Linked DNA regions of Homo sapiens. The protein of the gene in region 2 interacts with the protein of the main gene of each other region in a pairwise test. Each region holds a gene or a part of one and is shown on either strand. Other genes may lie near its edges.

The links.
Region 1: the proteins of VAMP4 (region 2) and LDLRAD1 interact in binary tests that used the Homo sapiens proteins (3 or more experiments, as listed by UniProt).
Region 3: the proteins of VAMP4 (region 2) and CISD2 interact in binary tests that used the Homo sapiens proteins (3 or more experiments, as listed by UniProt).

What each region holds. Positions count from the first base shown.
Region 1 is NC_000001.11:54,015,187-54,023,171, forward strand, and holds the start of LDLRAD1 (low-density lipoprotein receptor class A domain-containing protein 1), read right to left. Parts: upstream 3,001-7,985; 5' UTR 2,991-3,000; coding exon of another isoform or gene 2,927-2,990; coding exon 2,906-2,926; intron 2,242-2,905; coding exon 2,190-2,241; intron 1-2,189.
Region 2 is NC_000001.11:171,699,247-171,704,652, forward strand, and holds the end of VAMP4 (vesicle-associated membrane protein 4), read right to left. Parts: intron 5,289-5,406; coding exon 5,260-5,288; 3' UTR 914-5,259; downstream 1-913. UniProt on the Homo sapiens protein: Involved in the pathway that functions to remove an inhibitor (probably synaptotagmin-4) of calcium-triggered exocytosis during the maturation of secretory granules.
Region 3 is NC_000004.12:102,864,049-102,871,991, forward strand, and holds the start of CISD2 (CDGSH iron-sulfur domain-containing protein 2), read left to right. Parts: upstream 1-4,943; 5' UTR 4,944-5,036; coding exon 5,037-5,139; intron 5,140-7,943. Other genes in the region: UBE2D3 (ubiquitin-conjugating enzyme E2 D3), read right to left, coding at 4,667-4,696. UniProt on the Homo sapiens protein: Regulator of autophagy that contributes to antagonize BECN1-mediated cellular autophagy at the endoplasmic reticulum.

The DNA.
Region 1 (7,985 bases), about 120 Mb from region 2:
CTATAAGTCCTAGGCTCAAGCAGTCCTCCTGCCTCAACCTCCCAAAATGCTGGGACAACAGGCGTGCACCACTGTGTCTGGCCTGTTATTGCTTATTGAGGACTTACCATGTGCCGAGCCTTATTCTAAGCACTATGGAGATAGCAGTGATAGGGGACGTCCCTGCTCTTGTAGAACTGTACTTTAATTCTCCTTTAATTCTCCCCTGCTTACAAAATAATAAAAGAAGGCTTTACTGAGGACCTCCTGGGTGCCCTGCTGTGCAGCTTGCCCTGGTCCTTGCCCTCTGCAGCTTGTTATTGCACTTAGAAGGCAAGGCATGGACATGCCTGAAGGGGTGTGGGAGCTACTGACGTGCCCAGGCCACAGGTACCTCAGAGAAAGGGGCAGGAGCAGGTGTGATTCATCCCTGTGACCCCAGGGCCCAGCCCAGAGCCAGGCACGTGGTGGGGGCTTTTGTTTTTTTTGTTTTTTTTGTTTTTTTTTTGAGGCGGAGTCTTGCTCTATTGCCCAGGCTGAAGTGCAGTTGCATGATCTCAACTCACTGCAACCTCTGCCTTCTGGGTTCAAGCGATTCTCCTGCCTCAGCCTCCCGAGTAGCTGGGATGACAGGCGCCCGCCACCATGCCTGGCTAATTTTTGTATTTTTAGTAGAGACGGGTTTCACCATGTTGGCCAGGCTGGTCTTGAACTCCTGACCTCAGGTGATCCGCCCACCTTGGCCTCCCGAAGTGCTGGGATTACAGGTGTGAGCCACCACACCGGCCTGGGGCTTTGTGAACACTCTGTGAATATGCCGACCTGGGGGTCCAGGAGGCAAGAGAAGGCCCCCAGTATGGGTCAGTCCAGGTTATTTCCAATCCATTCACATTTCTGATGCAGTGTCCTCAGAAGCAGAATGGGATTTCCACAGGCAGGTAAGGGGAGGGTGCAAAGAGAGGGCATTCCAGGCAGAGGGCGTGGCAGGAGTAAAGGCCCAGTGGTTGCAGGTGGGGGAGCACAAATGGCCTGGGGTGGTGGGACTCCAAGATGGATGTGTATTGGGAGGGGAGACAATAGCAGGAGAGGCAGCATAAATCTAAAACCTGTCATCCCTACAGCCCTAGTTGGTGGCTCCTTGGCCATCAGCAAACAGGGTAAACTCAGGTAACCAGGGAGGCAGCGTGACTCTGGGCAGGGAGAGGTGTCCTGATCAGCCAAGCAGCTCCTCAAATATTTGTGCAGCACAGACCATGCACAAGGTGGGGCCATGGGAGAACCCGCAGAACCAAGGCTCCTGCCCAGGTGAAGCTGTTGCACTTCAAAGCCAGAAAGCCCTTAGGTGCCAGTCCTCTCCCTGTACCGATGAGGAAAAGGAGGTGATTCTTTCCACAACCCCGCCCATCATGAGTCAGGACTTAGAAATAAACAAACACCAGCTCGGAGCAACAAAAGCCCTGGGGCTTTGTAACCAGAGAGACCTCAGTTCACATTTGAACCCTGGCCCTCCAACCTCCCTGCTGTGTGACCTTGGCCTGGTTACTCAACCTCTCTTAGTTTCAGCTGTCTCATCTGTTATTGCCCCATAACAGGGCCCCTGTCTCAGAGCTGTCCTGAGGATTAAAGAGATCATGCAGTGCCAGGCACCTAACTGGGGATGGATTCTTTATAGCTGGTATTTTAATCTACCTCTCTGAGTGTGTTTCGTCATTGATCAAATGTGGGCCAAGCCAGGGCATATGCAAAGCTCAGTACATGTGTGTTTCTTCCTTCTTCTATTTTCAGAAGGGTAAAGAGGACTGTCCTGGTCACACCATGGGCCAGTGGCACATAGTAGGGCTAAATAAATGTGTCACTTTATCCATCAGAGTTAAAGAGAATTGCCCAGGTCACCCACTGAGTCAAGAATTTGACGCTGGTGCTCTTTTCTCTGTGTTACAGGTGGGCACTGTATGCAGTTTGGTGCCTGTGAGGTAGGCAGCACACAGTAGGTGCTTAATGAATGCATGTGCATGGAGAGAATGAATAACCCTATTAAGCAAGTGACTGTCAGCATGGCTGGCCAGGAAGCTGGGAGCAGACAACGTTAACATGGAGGCAGAGGTCTGAGGGACAGTGGGAGCCTTGAACCCTCCTCATGTCTCTATCGCCAACTGCCAGCTTCAAGGGAGCCCCACAGGGCACTGGCCCCAGGCCCTCCAGTTCTTTACCTTCCCCTCCAGGGTGGGCTTTGGATTCAGCAGCAGTGTAGCCATTCTCTCCCTGCCCAAGAGAACAGAGTGAGGGGTGGGCTTAGGTGAGGTGAGCTCCAGCCTCAGGGAGGCAGACAACAGGGTTTTCAGAGGGGTCACTGAGAGAGTCTTAGGTAGAACCACGGGTCCGTCACACCCCAGCATCTCACGCCCCAGATGCATCATGCCCGCTTCATATGTCCACACCTTTGCCTGCACTGTGCCCTCTGCCTGGAAAGCCTTTTTCTCTGCTGTCCACCTGATAAATATTCATCCTTCAAACCGGCTTGGGCAGCGACTCCTGGGTGAGGCTTTCCCTGATACCCTCCTCCCCAGTAAAACTGGCCGCTCTTCCCTCCTGTCCACCTGGCTCCTCTGTTTCCATACCAGCACTTGCCACCTGGACTGTATTGCTGGGTCATTGGTAGGGTCCCCTACACCCTGGGAGTGAGCCCCGGGGCAGGACGGGGGCTGATTTTCCTCCGTGTCTCCCATGTATGCCCACTCTCTACTGCCCACTCCTCATCCCAAGGTTTGCTCTCCCAAGATCAGGAGCCTGGTCAGGGCGGCTCTTACCTGGGGACAGCTCTTACTTGGAGACAACTCTTACCTGGGGACAGCTCTCACCTGGGGACAGCTCTCACTTGGGGACAGCTCTTACTTGGAGACAACTCTCACCTGGGGACAGCTCTCACCTGGGGGAAGACCTTGTTCATGTCTTCGGTTTCCTGCTGCCCGACTGGGGCTGTGTGCAGAGAGCTCAGCACGGGTTCCCTGCATTGTCACCAAGGCCAACCTGGAGGAGGGACAAGCAGGAGGCCTTGCCCGGGCCACACCCTCCCTGTGGGCAGGCCCCTGTCAGCTGCCTTCCAAGCAGAGGCAAAGGCAGGAGGGCCCCTCTCCGGCCAGGCTATTCCCTCATCTGCCATCTGACAGCAACATTGCGAGGCTGGAATCCTCATCCCTATTCCACAGATGAAGAGCCAGAGGTTCAGAGAGGGAGAAACTGCCCCAAGTCTCACAGTGCATGGGAGGAGTGAAACCCAGAAACTTTTCAGAAAGTGCATTTTCCTCCACATCAGAGATGGAACCGGAGGAGCTCAGGTTCCAGGGGTATGAAGATGCAGGCAGAAACTCCCAGAATTGACGTTTCGGTGGCTAGAAAGTAGGGGTCATTTTCTCATTGATGTTCTTCTGTTCAACTACATAGGTGACCTAGATTGAAAGAATATGCATTTTCCACTAAAATTATAAAGCAAATATAATTTTAAATTGTTTCATTTAGAAACGTGGCAATGTGAATTTTTACTGCCCCTGAGGTGGTGCTGAGGTAGGGAAGAGGCGGGGGGCTGGTTGCTTGCGTGAACAACCCCTTCTATGTCCCCAGTGAGTGGGTTTCCCTAGCAGCCTGTCCCACTGCTGAGTAAACCAAGGCCCTGGAATCTTGAGGGACAGGTCCAAGGACCCGGACCAAGGGAGGAGAGGTGTCTACCTCCAGAAATGAGCTCAGGAGTTCTTGCACCTGCCTCTGATGCCCATAGATTTTCCAACCTGCAATCAGCCTTTTCTTTTGCATTGGGAAATAAAATGATGAATCCACGTGGGTGCAAGTAGGAGGCACAGACACAGGGGCAGCCCTTGGGAGGCAGCAAGTAACATTGTGAAGAGCTGAGCCCTAGGCCGGGAGAACAGGACTCTCATTAGGGCCCTACCACTGGCTCTGACGGGTGACTCACTCCCCTTCCCTGCGCCTCAGTTCCTTCATCCAGAAAATAAAGATATAAGCTAGATGAAGGGGGTGTTTTAGTTTAAGGTTCCCCAGAATCAGACTCTAAGACAAGATTTGAGGGCAAGTAGAGTTAATTGGGAGTGATCCCAGGAAATGCTGGTCGGGGGGTGAGGGAAATGAGACATGGAAGAGAAGGATCCGATAACAGTCGTGTTATGAAGCAGGTTTCCGCTGTGGGCAAGTGGAATTTAGCCCTGCTGGGGCACTCGGGGAAGCTAGGGGAGAAGATGCCCCTCAGAGTTATCCCACTCAAGGTGAGGGGAACTGGGGTAATAATCTGCCAGCTCCTGCCAGTCTTGGTTGAGAATGGCCAGAGGAGGCCAGGCATGGTGGCTCATGCCTGTAATCCCAGCACTTTGGGAGGCCGAGGCAGGTGGATCACCTGAGATCAGGAGTTCAAGACCAGCCTGGCCAACATAGTGAAACCCCGTCTTTACTAAAAATACAAAAAATTAGCCGGGCATGGTGGCAGGCGCCTGTCATCCCAGCTACTCAGGAGGCTGAGGCAGGAGAATTGCTTGAACCTGGGAGGCAGAAGTTGCAGTGAGCCAAGATTGCGCCATTGCACTCCAGCCTGGGCAATAAGAGCGAAACTTCGTCTCAAAAAAAAAGAGACTAGCCAGAGGGTGTTAATTCCTTGTACCACTGGGCTGCCTTAGGCAAGGAGATGTCAGTGATGGCAACTTAGCAGCTGCACGCTAAGCTAATATGTCCTGAAATGGAAAGCGCTGATAGCATGGGCAGGGCACCCATGGTCCCTACTAAAGACACTAACTAGATTTTATCTGGCATGTCAGCTGCAATTGATTGCAAAAGGCTCTCTGGAACATGGGCCTCAGAAGGATTCTGAGGTCAGAACTGTGATTGACTAGTGATGCCTGCCATGGGTGTAAGAGTGGAGAGGGGTATCAGACATGATGGCTTTCACTCGCATCCGTGTGAAGAGACCACCAAACAGGATTTATGTGAGCAATAAAGCTGTTTATTTCACCTGGGTGCAGGTGGGCTGAGTCCGAAAAGAGTCAGCGAAGGGAGATAAGGGTGGGGCCGTTTTATAGGATTTGGGTAGATAAAGGAAAATTACAGTCAAAGGGGGGTTGTTCTCTGGCGGGCAGAGTGGGGGTCACAAGGTGCTCAGTAGGGGAGCTTTTGAGCCAGGATGAGCCAGGAGAAGGAATTTCACAAGACAGTGTCATCAGTTAAGGCAGGAACCGGTCATCTGGATGTATACGTGCAGGTCACAGGGGATATGATGGCTTAGCTTGGGCTCAGAGGCCTGACAATGACCATTTGCCATTCCTGGACATATTAATGCCCTTCAGCCTCTGGCCTTCCTTGACTCCGTGATTCTTAAGTGTTCCTTTATAAAAAGACTCCCCGGGGCTTTGAAATGCCCTTTCATCTGCTGAGTCCAGGTACAGCCACATACAACTATGCTGAAAGCACTGCGTCTCTCCAGGGCTCAGGCTGTCACCAAGAACCCTTGAGGGAAGGGCAGCAGGGGGCCTGGTGACATGAAGGACAGGCCCTGGTGCCTCAATCCTTGAACTTCCTGGAATCATATCCCCTGCAATTCACAGTCTCACTCTCAAGGGGAGGGCATGGATGGAAGGGAGGCAGATATTATTTATTGAGCAGCTACTATGCTCCAGGCACTACACCAGCCACCTTACACACGCCCTCTCCCTTGATCCTCACAACAACTCTGAAAGATAGGTAATATTATTACACCCACTAGACAGATGCAGAAACTGGGTTCAGAGAGGTTAAGTAACTTGCCAAAGCCACACAGTGGGTAAACAGCAGAGCAGAGATTTTAACCCAGGTCAGTTTTGCCTCCAAGCAGAGTTGATTCACACTCCCTCCCTTGTGGATGAGAATTTCTGTTGATCACATCTCTGTCAACACTTAGTACCATCAGACTTTTTGATTTCCTCCAGCCTGACAACTGTGAAATACCATCAGTGGCTCGCCGCCTTTAGGATTTGCAGTCCTCTTTTGCTTAACCTCAGATGTGTCTCATTCTAAAGCAGGGAGATGCTGGGCACTGTGGCTTGCACCTGTAATCCCAGGACTTTGGGAGGCCAAAGTGGGTGGATCGGTTGATATCAGGAGTTCGAGACCAGCCTGGCCAACATGGTGAAACCCTGTCTCTACTAAAAATATAAAAATTAGCCAGGCACGGTGGCCCACGCCTGTAATCCCAGCTACTTGGGAGGCTGAAATGGGAGAATCGCTTGAACGAACGGAAGGCAGAGGTTGCAGTAAGCCGAGATCGTGCCACTGCGCTCCAGCCTGGGTGACAGAGTGAGACTCTGTCTCAAAATAAATAAATAAATAAATAAAGCAGGGAGAATGGTGAGTGGTGGATGGAGAGTTCTAGCAGCAGCTTAAGGCGGTGCCCATATTATGAGGGTTAGAGGAGGAAATTGGAAAGAGTGGAAAACAGGGCTGCCAGAGTCCCTCAGGGAAACTCAGAACTTTGATCAGCAGAGTCAAAGGGACCTCAGGCTCAGAGAGAACAACGGCCTCACTTTACAGAAGGGGGATCTAAAGTCCGGAAAGAAGAGGGGACTTGTGCAAGGCCATACCGTGGTCAGTGTCCCAGTACAGCGAGCACTCCTTCCACAGCAGCAGATGGCCTCAGGGACATTGGCACGTGCAGCCTCAATTTTTTTTTTTTTTGAGACAGAGTCTTACTCTGTTGCCCAGGCTGGAGTGCAGTGGCGCGATCTCCGCTCACTGCCATCTCTGCCTCCTGGGTTCACGCCATTCTCCTGCCTCAGCTTCCCAAGTAGCTGGGACTACAGGTGCCTGCCACCACGCCCGGCTAATTTTTTGTATTTTTAGTAGAGACAGGGTTTCACTGTGTTAGCCAGGATGGTCTCGATCTCCTGACCTCGTGATTTGCCCACCTCGGCCTCCCAAAGTGCTGGGATTACAGGTGTGAGCCACCGTGCCCAGCCCAGCCTCAATTATTTTCAGCCTCACTGTCTCTCTTGCCTAGGGTACAGGCCCCAGGCTGCCAACCTCACGTGTCCCAGCAGTTGCTCCTGAAGGGCACTGTTCAGATGCTTGGCCCACGTTGTCCCCTCCTTCTCTACTGTCTGCTCTCTTTCTGGTTAGTTAGAACTGATGGCAGGGGCTTTCACTGCCTGTTCTTGTCCTAGCGGAAGGCAGTTGTTGGGATAGTTATATCATGAACACTAATGGCTTGGGCTGTAGTAAACAACCTCCACCTCCACCCTGCTGGGCCCTTGGCCTTGACTAGGACTCCTGGGCCAGGGCTGGGTAAACTTCTAGCAAGAGCACAAGTTTTGGAGCTGATAGTCCAAATGGTCTCACCACTAGCTGAGTGATCTTGGCTGGGTCACTTAACCTCTCTGAGCTGAGCTCAGATTGAGGCTGGGCTGGGCACGGTGGCTCACGCCTGTAATCCCAGCACTTTGGAAGGCCGAGGTGGGCGGATCACAAGGTCAGGAGATCGAGACCATCCTGGCTAACACATTGAAACCCCGTCTGGACTAAAAAAATACAAAAAATTAGCCAGGCATGGTGGCGGGCACCTGTAGTCCCAGCTACTCGAGAGGCTGTGGCAGGAGAATGGCATGAACTCGGGAACTGAAATCGCGCCACTGCACTCCAGCCTGGGCGACAGAGCAAGACTCCGTCTCAAAAAAAAAAAAAAAAGAAATACGGAAAGGTAGGAAGAATAATGTAACAAATAATCACGAATCCGAGTTAACAAGTGTTAACATGTAATCAGTTTTGCTTCACATTTTTTTCTGTTAAGTACAGCACAATTGAGGGCCTCTGTTTTTTTCCCCAGTTGTATTTCTTCTCCTCCCTTTCCAGAGTTGATCAGTTTCCTGAGTATGGCATGTATTCTTTGGTAACTGGTTTGTATATTTTTAACATATGGGTATATATGCATGAAAAATACGTAGTGCTGCCTTTATGGCTTTTTAAAAACATTGATAAAATTT
Region 2 (5,406 bases):
TTAGGTAGTATCTGATCTTCCTGCCCGGTTCTCTCATCTGTTGAATGGTGGATTGTATTAAACACCATCATTCTCAGAGTGCCCTTACCAGGTTGCTTCCTGTCTCCATTTCTAACAACAGCACTTTATTTGTGAAGACTATCTCAGGGTACAACGTGCCTCCAATGTCATCTCCCCTCCCATGGCTTTTTGTAGTATTAAGACAATAAAGGCCTGGTATGGTGGTTCACACCTGTAATCGTAGCACTTTGGGACGCTGAGGCAGGATAGCATGAGTCTAGGAATTTGAGACCAGTCTGGGTAACACAGTAAGACCCCGTCTATAAAAAAAATTTAAAAATTAGCTGGGCATGGTGGTACATGCCTGTAGTCCCAGCCACTTGGGAGAACTGAGGTGGAAGGATTGCTTGAGCCCAGCAGTCTGAGACTGCAGTGAGTTGTGATCGCACCACTGCACTTCAGCCTGGGAGACAGAACAAGATCCTGTCTCAGAAACAAAAACAAAAAGACACAGTTTAGTGTGTGGGTGGAGGGAGGCTAGAGAGAATGAACATTACTCTGGTTGCCTAAAGCACCAGGCAGCTGAGGGACAGGATCAGGTTTTCTGATTGGGACATGTAAGTTTAAGAGAAAACTGCCTGCCTTCCTCTCCTACAGACACTGTGGACTGAGGTAAAGACATTGCTTTACTGAGTTAAAAATCACTAAGAAATTCTTCTTAGATTTTGTCAGTATCAGGCATAATTTTTGGTGAAAGAATGCCTTTTCTTTTTCTTATTTTTCCTCCATGCACTTTATTGGGAAAATAGGATAGATTAAATCAGGGGTGATTATCCAGATGTTATTGTTAAATAAGCTATGCTTTGAAGTTAAGGCAACAGGTAACACATATTGAATAAGCCAAAGTGCTTAATTTTTGTTTTCTATGAAATAGTTTATTTCATTGTTCACTATGGAGGGGCTACAAATACACTTCTGATATTAACACAAAGGTCTAAACTTTGCAACACTGGTAAAAATGGTTATGAGGAATTGAGAAGCTAGGGAACAGGGCACATGACATTTACATTTGCTCATCTCCCACTATACATTTCAAAACATCAAAGGCACTTACCAAAGTGATTAAATAAGGGAGTGTGGAATTTAAAATAATGACATATACCCAAGACACAAAATAAAGGACTTGAATTTTCTTATAGTTTGATTTCTAACATTTTACTGACTAAAATCTCTGCTAATTATGTAATCTACTTTGTGGCTTTAAAATATTGGATACTTTGATTTTAAGACTACTTTAAATGAAAAGAACCTAATGGAATACCATAAAGCCAGAGTTTTTCCACACCCAATTACAGTAGAAGAGCACCCCTATATCCAGGCAAAAGCAAAAGGCCCCACTCTTCAGTCACTCATATTGCTTCTCCAGAGAGCACTGTGGAGTCACCTCTCACTGATATACTAACATGTGGCATCTTTGTGGCTTCATAGGCACATTCATTCAACACACATTTATCTAGCATCTGCCAAGGTTCACAGCACTGTGCTGGGTGCTGGGGAGACAGAAACATGGTGTGGTGCTTACTTTAACAAGCTTACATTTATCCCCTGTAATTGGGTTGGTCATGCTTTCTTTTCAATTCCTACTGATTTGTTCCAAGAAGCTTCTTGGAATAAAACAGAAGCCAGAATAAATGCATTTGTATTCCCATCCCTAATTCTACTTGGTTTCCAGAAGAAAAAAAAAATCAGAATAAGACTATCTCAAAGTATTAAAGAGGATCTAAACCCTACATCAATCTAAAGCATTTAGACAAATGCATTTTTAGACAAAAGCATTTAGACAAATTTCATTTGTCTACAACATGGAAAAAACAAGTTAAGAAGTAGAGCACCTTTCAGCCCTTACTACATTCTAAAACAAACTTGTAAATGCTTTCAAACTGACTTATGCTCTTACTCTCAACTCACAGAAAAATGGAGTCCAATCACATTTCCATGTGAAAACACAAAATTAGGTTAACAGAACAGTCATCCTTGACATAGTAATACTCTGACAATACAATTAAGGGGACATCTTCTAATGGCATTTGTTCTTAACATGGAAAAACAATTTCTTGCATATTTTCTAATCATAGTGTATATACAGATGTAAATACAGAGTCAATGTGTGCAATGATGCTGACAAGGCATCAAGCATGTTTTAGAGTATACCGGCAATGAGAGATTTCAATTACTTTATATTCCTGCCTTCTCAGTCTGTACACATATTATCATTTACAGGATAGTCACATACTATACAGAATTGAAAGATGCCAATTTTTGCTATCAAAAGTGCTGAAGTTATAATTTCCTAATACAGACTATTGAAATGCACAGAAAGACTACAATAGGCAATCTATAGCAGGGCTAACAAAGTATTTCTATATCTCATGTCTATTAATTACCCTTCCTCCATCTTATATAATATTCCATCTTCAGTAATGAACTTTTATCTAATTAAGAAATCCCCCAGTTTATAAAATCTGAGGGCAATTTCCAGTGAACTTTGTCAGGATAGAGGAACCAAATGACCACAGGTATTACTGAGTTATAATAAGAAGGAGTAACCAATTAATCAGTATTATAACAACAAAATTGCTGCAAGGCAATAGGCTTCTGTAATTAAACATAAATCACAAAGGTATGGATTCAGGCATCAAAATAGTGACGTGATTTCACTGAGTATCAACTAGTATTTGCAAAGCTACTTGAATTTTTCTGTTGATCTTCACTTGTTGTTAAATAATGATAGTTTTGATGGTGGTAAAACTTCATTTTTCAAGTGCAGGATGATCTGAGCTGAATGAGAAAAAAAGTAATTAAGGGAGGGAATAAAGGTAGGCCTGGCATCAGTTTGAACAATATATTTTTTTCTTCTGTTTTTGATCGTAAGAGGGCTTATATCTCCAAGGTTACCACAATAAAGTCATAACCATGCCAGCCATTTTAAGGATTTCAGGATTAATCAAGACCAAGAAAGATGAAATGATGAATTACAAACCAAGCCATCACTACTACAAAGTTCCATGAGTGATAATTCTGTTACCCATATCCCAGGCAGCAATATGTTTAAATTACAAAGACAGTGACATATATATTGTCAAAAAATTTTACTGTTACTTATTATTTAAATTTAAAAATTTTATAATTTTACATTTTGTAATTATTTATTTAAAAGTGGCATATTTTATTAAAAGGAACACTGGAAATATGGATACTTTTTGAGAAGTAATCTTCATCTTCACTTGTAGATATTATGGAGAAACCAGATTTCTACATCAACTAATGGAAAATTAACCACTTATGAGCCTAGTTCCAATTCAAATAAAGGACATACATACAAATGTTAGGACTGATTCTGTCCATTCAGTTAAAATATTTCCATTCCTGAATTATTAGCTACTGAAATTCTAAAAATGCTCATTTTTCTGGGTATCTTAACTTAAAAGATTTATTAGCTGTTCAGATGCTGTTTATATTAATTGACATTTACAAAGAGCATAGAGACCAAAGACAATATACACTATAGTATGTAAGACCTTTATCTCCTTCTAAATGCTCTAAGCAAACTATAAAATTTAGTAATTCTATTTAGATCTTCTTAGATAACTTGCAGGTGTCTTGAGTGTCTCAGTCTGCTTTCTCTCTTCAAATTTTTTCCATTCTAAACAGCATTTTTTGCCTCCTAGTAATAATCCTGTAGAATTTTAAAAACAGACAAAAAAACACCAAACCCAGATTCTATGCTTTATTCATTTTGCATTAAGATGACCAAAGAAATAAAACCTAAATAAAATAAACATAAAATCATTTTTCCCTATTTAAATACTGATAATTTCTATTAACCCTATTTTTAATTTAGGGAGTTTTATATTCATATTGTCAAGATATCCAGTGCACAAGTTTCTGCAGAATCACTAATTTTATTATAAAGCTTCCTCTCCCCACACCTTAGGGGACAATGTATTTTCACTCTGACTTGTTTAAAAGACACAAGGAGGTTGGCATATTTTAAAGTTAACACATTTTTTCATTATAAAAACAGGCTTAGGTTAATGGTCACTCTCTAGCATTTGGTTACCGACTGACTGATTATCATATGTGTGCGTGTGTGTGTGTGTGTGTGTGTGTGTTTGTGTGTATATATATATATATATATATATATATATATATATATATATATACACATAGGTTCCTGACTTTCTACTACTCATTACTGTTGGCTGATGCAAAATTTGATTGTGCAACATACATCTCCTCAAGGATGAACAGGAAATGCAAAGATATAAAATTCAAAGTATTAATAGATGGTTTTGCTACTTTTTGTACTTTTGGTAAATGAGATAGTTGGAAGTTAGAGGCTATTAACTAAAATAAAATTAAGGAGTAAGTAAGTTACCTGTAAATTTCATTTACTCACATTAGGACTGACTGGTCTCTCTTTATTGGAGTTTAACAGAAAACAGACTGGACCATGACTGGCAGCTATATATTGGTCATTTTCAAATACTCCAATGACACTCTTCAATAACTTTATTATCTCCAGTTTTATGATGCCATACCATGTTTTTTCACACTGTTTAAAAATTTCCATTTCCATAATCCAATGCCAAAAAAATTACTACACATTCTCTTACACAGTCAAAAATATATTTACTGGAATGTTTTTAGTTATACCTGAGGGCAACAACATTTACAACATTTAGCTTTTGTTACACCTATAAATGTGGAAATTGCTTGCAAAACAACTGTAATATGAAAGGAACTATATTTCTGCAAATATTGACAGAATGGTTATGCATCTCTTTCAGCATATAATTTGGTACTCTACACAGGCTTCCTGACCCCCAGCATGACCCGCTCCCTAATGCAATAATGCAAGTCCTTATGCCATTAAAATATTAATATGAAATATTATAATCAGTGTTTATATACACAAATAATGAACTGGCAAGTATCTAGTTTCAAATTAGATCCTTGAAATATGGAAAAATAGAGGCTAGTTCTCTTTGCCTTAAACATAATTATTAAAAGAACATTTTGTTAGAAAGGGAGAAGATAATTGGACATTCTCAACGTTCCAATTTGAAGTGATACTTGCCTCTTAGTTTCTTGAAAAAGAAGTTTTGAAAGTTATATACACATAGGTTTCATTTAAATTATGCAGCAATCTTTTATTACTGTCCCAGATCTTGTTTAATGAAGATCTCTGTCATCAAATCAAGTACGGTATTTCATGACTATAAGAACTGTAAGAGAAAACATGAAAAAAGCAATATATCAACATCAGATATATATGCTATGTTTGAAGCAATATTCCTAAATGTAGTTGTGTCTACTTTTAGAAATGGGTAATGAGGATTGACT
Region 3 (7,943 bases), on a different chromosome or scaffold from region 2:
GATGAAATATCATACTAACTATGCATGTATATGTGCCAGGTACTGTTTTAATTGCTATCTATGTCTTAATTCAGTGAATATACACAACACAACCTTAAGATGTAGGTATTACCTACATTTTTACAGGTTATATAATTTATCCTAGTAGAATCAGAATTGTAGTCTAAACAGTGTGGCTCCAAGAGTCTACAGTCTTAACTATAATGCTGTATGTAATTCCTTGCAGTAAGTAGACAGTAGTAGTGTTTTGTTATATTGTTATTAAATGCCCTTTCTTGACCAAATAAAAAATTGGCAAACCTATCTTGACTTCCCAATTTATCCAGGAATGGGCTGACAGAGCAGAAAAAGACAGGGTTTCAAAACTAAATCAAAGGATGTTTAGTGGCAGTAAAAATGTACCAGAATGTGAGATTGTGGTCACCAGTAAAATTGCTGAATTTAAGGTCTGAAAGCCAGAGTAAAGGGTCATTCATTGATGGTAAAGACGATAATGATAATAACCATTCATTGAGTATATTACAAAATTAATTGTATCTAGTCATAACCACTGGTATCACCATATCAAAGAGAAGAAAACTGAGGCCCTAATTAATTTTCAGTAAAAAGTTAAGTTTTTCATACAACTTGACAAGAGGACTCTGAAATTCATAGAGTAGTAACAAGGCCAGGCATTCACAATGCAATTTGAAGAAAACAGGTGGGGAAGCTTATCTTGCTAGATATTAACACTTACTTATATAGTTGTAGCAATTATGACAGTATGGTATTGTTATAGAGGTTATACAAATACAGCAATGGAAGAGAATAAGCAACCCAGGATGTGTGGAAACCTGATTTGAGATAAGTGACATTACAAACCACAAAAACAAGTTTAACTCTTCAATAAATGGTGCTAGAACATAGTTGTCTGTATGTAAAATAATAACAAATGAGAGTAGATCCCTTTCTCATGCACAAAAAGTAAGTACTGGGTTGAGTAAAGCCCTAATATGAAGAATATAAGTTTAAAACTTTTAGCAAAAACACAGGTGAATACCTTTGTGATTTAGGGGTAGAAAAAGATTTCTTAAACAAGACTCCCAGAACACAAATTGTAAAGAAAAAGATGAATAAATTTGACTACACCCAAACCAAATTTCAGTATAAAAACAGACATACACGGCCAGGCACGGTGGCTCACGCCTGTAATCCCAGCACTTTGGGAGGCAGAGGCAGGTGGATCATGAGGTCAGGAGTTCAAGACCAGCCTGGCAAATATGGTGAAACCTCGTCTCTACTAAAAATACAAAAATTAGCCGGGAGTGGTGGCGGGCGCCTGTAGTCCCAGCTACATGGAAGGCTGAGGCAGGAGGATCACTTGAACCTGGGAGGCAGAGGTTGTAGTGAGCTGAGATCGCGCCATTGCACTCCAGCCTGGGCAACAGAGACTCTGTCTCAACCAAAAAAAAAAAAAAAAAAGACATACACTAGGAGAAGATAAGCAACAGGAAAAGATAAGCAACCAATGTAACCAACAAGGTAATATTTTCCAGAAAACATGTACCAGTGAAACTGATGAACAAACCAATAGCACAGTGGGCAAAGATGTCAAGAGCAGACTAGTAGGCATTTGGAATTAGACTCCTAGAATTAAGATTAGCCTAAAGAAATCTGGGCTGGAAATAGAGATTTGGGCTATATCTTAACGATCATATTTGAATTTGGGGCACTGGATGACCTAATGGGAAAAAAACATGAAAGAAATAAAAGTCTTGGGCCTAGCTAGGACAGGCAGAAGATGAGTGATCCAAGCTCAAGTGCTTGAAAGTAAATAATGACTCCTTTAACTGTATTTACATATTTATCTTGAGTTTTCTGACCACAGTTTCTTTATGTCTTTTAAAGATGGAGTCTAAAAACACTATCGCATAAGGTGGTCAGATAAGCCTATTACATCTATTTAGAGCAATATTATCTTTAGACCATGTTTCATGTGCAGCCAAGAAGGCAGGGTTGTGGAAATGAAATACAAATATAAATGAAAACAGGATTTAAATTTTAAGTAAAGGGAATTTAAGAAAATATTCCTTTTAAGTGGATAATAAGGATTTTTAAATTGGTGGAGTTAGGAATTATCTCCTATTACACATTCGCATAGCTCATGTAATGCATCAGAATACCTAATATATGATCCACACCTTTTCTCTGAATTTCAAGGCCTCCCAAAAAAGTTTTATCCATATAGACTTGCATTCACTACATTTTTTCTACTTGAAAATAGCAAACCAGCTATTCACATAAACTGCTAAGAGGAAGTAAGCCAACCATAAAAAATTACATACTGTAAAATTACTTATATGTGAGGGTCAAAAACATGCACAGCAATACAGAATAGTAGTAATGGTGGTGGATGTGGTTGGAAGGGTCGCTTTTTAAAAACGCCTCTATTGAACATTCTGTATATTGATGTGGGTGGTGGTTACCTGGAACTGTACATTTGGCATTTGAGCATTTTACTATATCTTTAAATTGAGGTATGTATTTTTTAATTCTTTAAAGAAAAACTGCTTGGAGGTCTTATTCTTAATGCACAACAATCACAAACATTAAATTTATACAGTCCAGAGAATGTAAAGTTGCTTTAAAAAAATTCTTTCCTTTTCTCACTTTAAAATACCAAGGGGAAAAATTAAACTCAACACAGCACGTCTTGCCCTTGTCAAGATGACAGATCCTCTAAGAGAAGAAACGAATAGGTAATGGCCTTTTCCAGATTTTCTTTTCCTAATGTACCCCACTTCCAACCTACCCCTACCTCAACTAGGGTATCTAGTTGTACCCAAGGGTGCTTCTACATTAGATCCACAGAGATTAAAGATAACAGTTAACAGAATAGTCCAGAGGACAAGGATATTCAAGTTCCATCATCTTCAGGATAAAAAAGCTCCAGGGTTTACCTCCAAACTCTCTCTAAAGGAAATCCCATCAACCTTTTAAACATCACTTTGTATACACCATCTTCTATACTGCCCTAGCTCAAAAACATGAACCTGTATCTAAACGTGTTTGTAGAATTTCCATTGTAAGTTTTACTTTAACAATTTTGAACAATTATAATGATAGAAAATTATTTAATCTAGATTTTGGTCAACTCTATTACTGATATTCTTTTTTAGTGAAGGACAATCACAAACACTAAATTTATACAGTCCAGAGAATGAAAGATTGCTTTAAAAAATTCCTTCCTTTTCTCACTGTAAAATAAAAATACCAAGGGGAAAAATGGAAAGTATTTATTATAACTGGCTGTTACACTGTCATACACAATGAAATACTGGACCATTAGCAGTTCGTTATTATATGTTGTTAAGTGTAGAACTGTAAATAATGAGGCATATTATTAAGATATCACACACATTATCCAATCAGCAAGTGCACAACTTCGGACATTTTGACTTCAGCCAAAATATGAAACAAAGTCATAGCAAGAAAGTTATTTCAAGGGAGTGAAATTTTCTCCTCTTACCCTTCAAATCTTTTAGAGATATTAATAAAAACAACTATCCAGCCTGGGCGATATAATGGGACTCCATCTACATACACACAAAAATTTTTAAAATTCGTTGGGTGTGGCAGCACACGCCTGTAAACCCAGCTACTTGGAAGGCTGAGGCAGAAGGATCCCTTAAGCCGGAGTTAGAGTCTGCGGTGAGCTATGATCTGACCACTGCACTACAGCCTGGGCGATAGAGCGAAACCTTGTAACAACAACAACAACAACAAAATTAAAACCTTCAAGATCAAGCTTGCCCAACAGGATGGCTTTGAATGCCACTCAATGCAAATCTGTAAACTTTCTTAAAACTTTATGAAAAAAAATTTTTTTTTAGCTCATTAGCTACCATTAGTGTTAGTGTATTTATGTGTGGCCCAAGACAATTCTTCTTCCAGTGTGGCCTAGGGAAGCCATAAGGACCCCCTGCGCTAGACTTCAGCAGAAGCCTTGTAACATAAAGAAAACCATACATAAGGCTTTAGATTCTTTTTTTTTTTTTTTTTTGTGACGGAGTCTTGCTCTGTCTCCCAGGCTAGAGTGCAGTGGCACATTCTCGGCTCACTGCAACCTCCGCCTCCCTGGTTCAAGCGATTCTCCTGCCTCAGTCTCCCGAGTAGCTGGGACAGGCACCTGCCACCGCGCCCGGCTAATTTTTCTATTTTTAGTAGAGACGGGGTTTCACCATCTTGACCTGGCTGGCCTCGAACTCCTGACCTCGTGATCCACCCGCCTCGGCCTCCCTAAGTGCTGGGATTACAGACGTGAGCCACCGCGCCCGGCCAGCTTTGGATTCTTTTACCACTTTCCCGAAGGAAAAGGAACTGAAAATATCTAAGGAAGGACTACTACGAATCTTCTCTGAGTGGCAAAAACCAGAGGTTTTTGGAGCTAGGGCTGCAGTTAAGTTGCCAAGGGGCAGAGATGTAAACAGTTCCTGGTTTAGTTAAAATATTTTAATTTTTATTTTTTTAAGCCTGGCCTTTGGGTGAAGGAGTAAAATTAGGCACTGGGGTCTGGGTAGGGGGAGGATACTCATGGGCGAGTATGCAACCCTAGGGCCACAGCACCCAAACTGTAGGGGAAGAGGCGGGGCGAGAGGGGACGAAGTAGAGACAGCAAGAGACTCACTTTTGAAAGGCACTTTCGGTTAGAAAGCATTCTCACATGCTTATCTCATCGCACACAGTATCCTTTCTGCTGGTCTCCAGCATCTACAGACGTTAAAGGCCCAAGAGGAGGGCCACCTTCACACGAGATTCCGAGGAGGGCCTCGCTACCCGCCAGTTCCCGCGCCTCGGCAGTCCGCCGCGAGCGTACGTCACTCGCCCGCCGCCAATCGGCGCCCGGCAGGTCACCTCTCCTCCCAGGGCCCGCCGCCCCGCCCGCCGCCCAGGCCGAGGCCGCCAGTGCCCGCCGGCCGCTTCCGCTCCCGGCGCAGGCGCGGCAGCTTGGCCAGAGCGGAGGGGGCTCGGGAGAGGAGTGGACGCCGCTGGCCAGGATGGTGCTGGAGAGCGTGGCCCGTATCGTGAAGGTGCAGCTCCCTGCATATCTGAAGCGGCTCCCAGTCCCTGAAAGCATTACCGGGTTCGCTAGGCTCACAGGTAATCCTCCCCCATCAGCCAGTCCCCATCCTTGCACGTTCGCCAAGCGGGGGAAGGAGGCGTAAAAATCCTAGGGCCAAGGGGCGGGACGGAGCTCGGCGCCTGGCACGTGATCCCCGCGCGCAGAGGAAGGTGGGCGCGCGCCGACGCAGCTGCCTGGGGAACGCCTGTGAGGCAGTCTCCGGGTGCTTGATGCCCCAGGGTCTTTTGTCCTCGGAGTTGTCTCCGGTGTCATTCCGTGGCAAGATACCAGGTTTTTGCAGAGAAGGTGCTGAGTTGGGAACAGGCCAGTCTCTTTCATCTCCTGTCCTGCTCATCGCTCTCTGTAGCGTACTTGTTTATTTTAAAGCGGGCTAAGTCGTCGTTATCTAAGGCCTCATGTAACAGGCAGCCCCAGCTACCGGCTGGGTTGTACCCTCAGCATGTGGGTGGGAGTGTGTGGGAGAGAAATATAGACTTACACGTAACACGTATATGACCGTTTTATTTAGTAACGAAATTAGGAGATAACCTCCATTCCCTCAGGTTAGAATTGACCTATCATAGGTGGCATTTGAGGTCATCTCCGTTTCTACGGTCCCGGGGCCCGCTGCGGTAACTTAAGTTGGAAGAAAGATACCTTACCCAAGAAAGTATTCGAAGGCCGGTATGAGGAGTGAAATCTTAGAAAATGAAATTTAGTGAATATATGTAACGTTCTATACTTAAGGACCCTCACTTAACCCACACAACTCATGAGGATTTCACATCTAAAGGATGAAAATCTCCAGAATGCAGTCAACACTTGGGAGATTGTGTTGAGTTATGAGCATTTCATTGTAAGGGGGATATTTCTAAACGGAACTCAGACCGAGTAGGATGGTGAAGGAATCAGCAAGTATTGAACTCCTATGTCCTAGGTTATCAGGGAGTGCAAACATGAATTAAGATAATTCTGAGGTAAATAGGGTTGCTTCGCCGGGAACGTTCTAAAGATCTGTAGTACCTGACCTAAAATACAGCAATCGCACAGCTGTCTGGTAGAAGAAAAATAAGATTTGTGTAGACTAAAATATAGAACTGATAACAAATTAACCAAATTAGTGAAGGTTATTGGGAGGTGAATTTCAGTCTAAGGAAGATTTTTTTTTAAATTAAAGAATGCTTTCCCCAAACAAATGTGGTGCTTCAGTGATAGCCCCTCTCAAAGATGAAAAAAACAAACAAAAAGACTCTGGTGGTGGGTGGTCGATAGATTTAGAAGGGATAAACTAGATGACAAATTCTCTTCCAAATCTAGAGATTCATTGAATTATGGTCAGACAGACGCTCTGTTGAGTGGATTGTGAGATTTTAATATTTTTTAAATATTAAGAGTTTTAGTAGAAAACATGCAATTGAATAGAAAGCATGGTAACAATAATAAACATTAAAAAGGAACATTAAACATCAGAAGCAATGCAAAAGTAAAATAAAATGAAAAACGTTTCACATCAAGTGTTTATAAACATCAGATCTTTTGATCCTACCAGTTTACTCTGACAGAATTGCAGCAATTCCATAAAATTTTGGCTTTCCCCACTTCTTTTACTTAAGTACTTTACATATTTTAATATAATCCTCATTTTTTCCCTAACAACTAAATACTTATTTTAGTTTTAACATCACAATGGGCCTAACCATTCATTCCCTTACAACTGGAAATTAGAAATGTTTCTATTTTTTAAAATTCATTATGTAATAGTTCATTGGCAAGTAAGCAAATACCAGTTGTCATATTTCTCCCTTTTGGATGTCTTCACTTAAATAGCAATACCAGGCCAAAACGGTATGATCATATTGTGACTTTTGTACCCTTTTGTCATTTTGACATTTGTACCTTCTTACTAATTTGCATAAGTTAACTGTTGAGGAATTTTTAACAGTCAAGAAAGGAAAATGTCCAATGAATTACCTATGTTTTTTCCAGATGGTGGCTGCATTTGTATTAGTTTCGATTCTCTGTAAATCAAGTATAATTGAAGAAAATTAGAAAGTATGAAACTAGATTTAATGGCTAGATTTTAGAAGTATGCTTTCTTTTCTTGAGGATCCCTAGTGTCAACAAATATTTAATTCCTATTAAAGACATTAAGAAAACTCAACCAAAACCTTTTCTCTCTTAAGAATATATAGTAACTTCCTCTTAAAAGTTGTTAAATATTTAATATGAAGACTGATTCTCAGAAATAATGACCATTCTGAGAAGTATTTTAATAACATACATTTAACTTAAGTCCCATTACAGTGTGGCTATAGTTAATAGTTCTCATTTTATTGCTGGTTTATTTAGGAAACATGAACATGCTTGTAATAACTGGTTTATGAAAAACATGAGATAGCCCTTTTTGGATTGGACAAAACAATTGCAGGGTTTATTTTGGAGTACTATAGAAGAAAAATTTCAGTGGCTATTTTCCACTCTCGGTCTCCCATTCTGAATAGATTGTAACAGTTAATGACATTTGGCTTTCTTAAATGAGTTACTTGTAGAATCCATAATGTACACTTTTGTTAAAATAAAAACCTGGAAGACAACTTTTTAGCAATTGTTTAAAATGTCTAGGAGACCAAAAAATATTTCCATTTTCTTCTATGAAAATTAGAGCAAAAAACAATACAGTTCACATTATTATTGCCTACATTTCCTTCCCTATTTAAATCTAGCTGTTTTTTAAAGCTATTGACTCTCTTATGATGACTCTGCATTCTTAGAAACCACATGGAGATCTTTAATGACCATATACTAGTTAAATACAGGCAGTTCTCACCTATCAGAAACAACT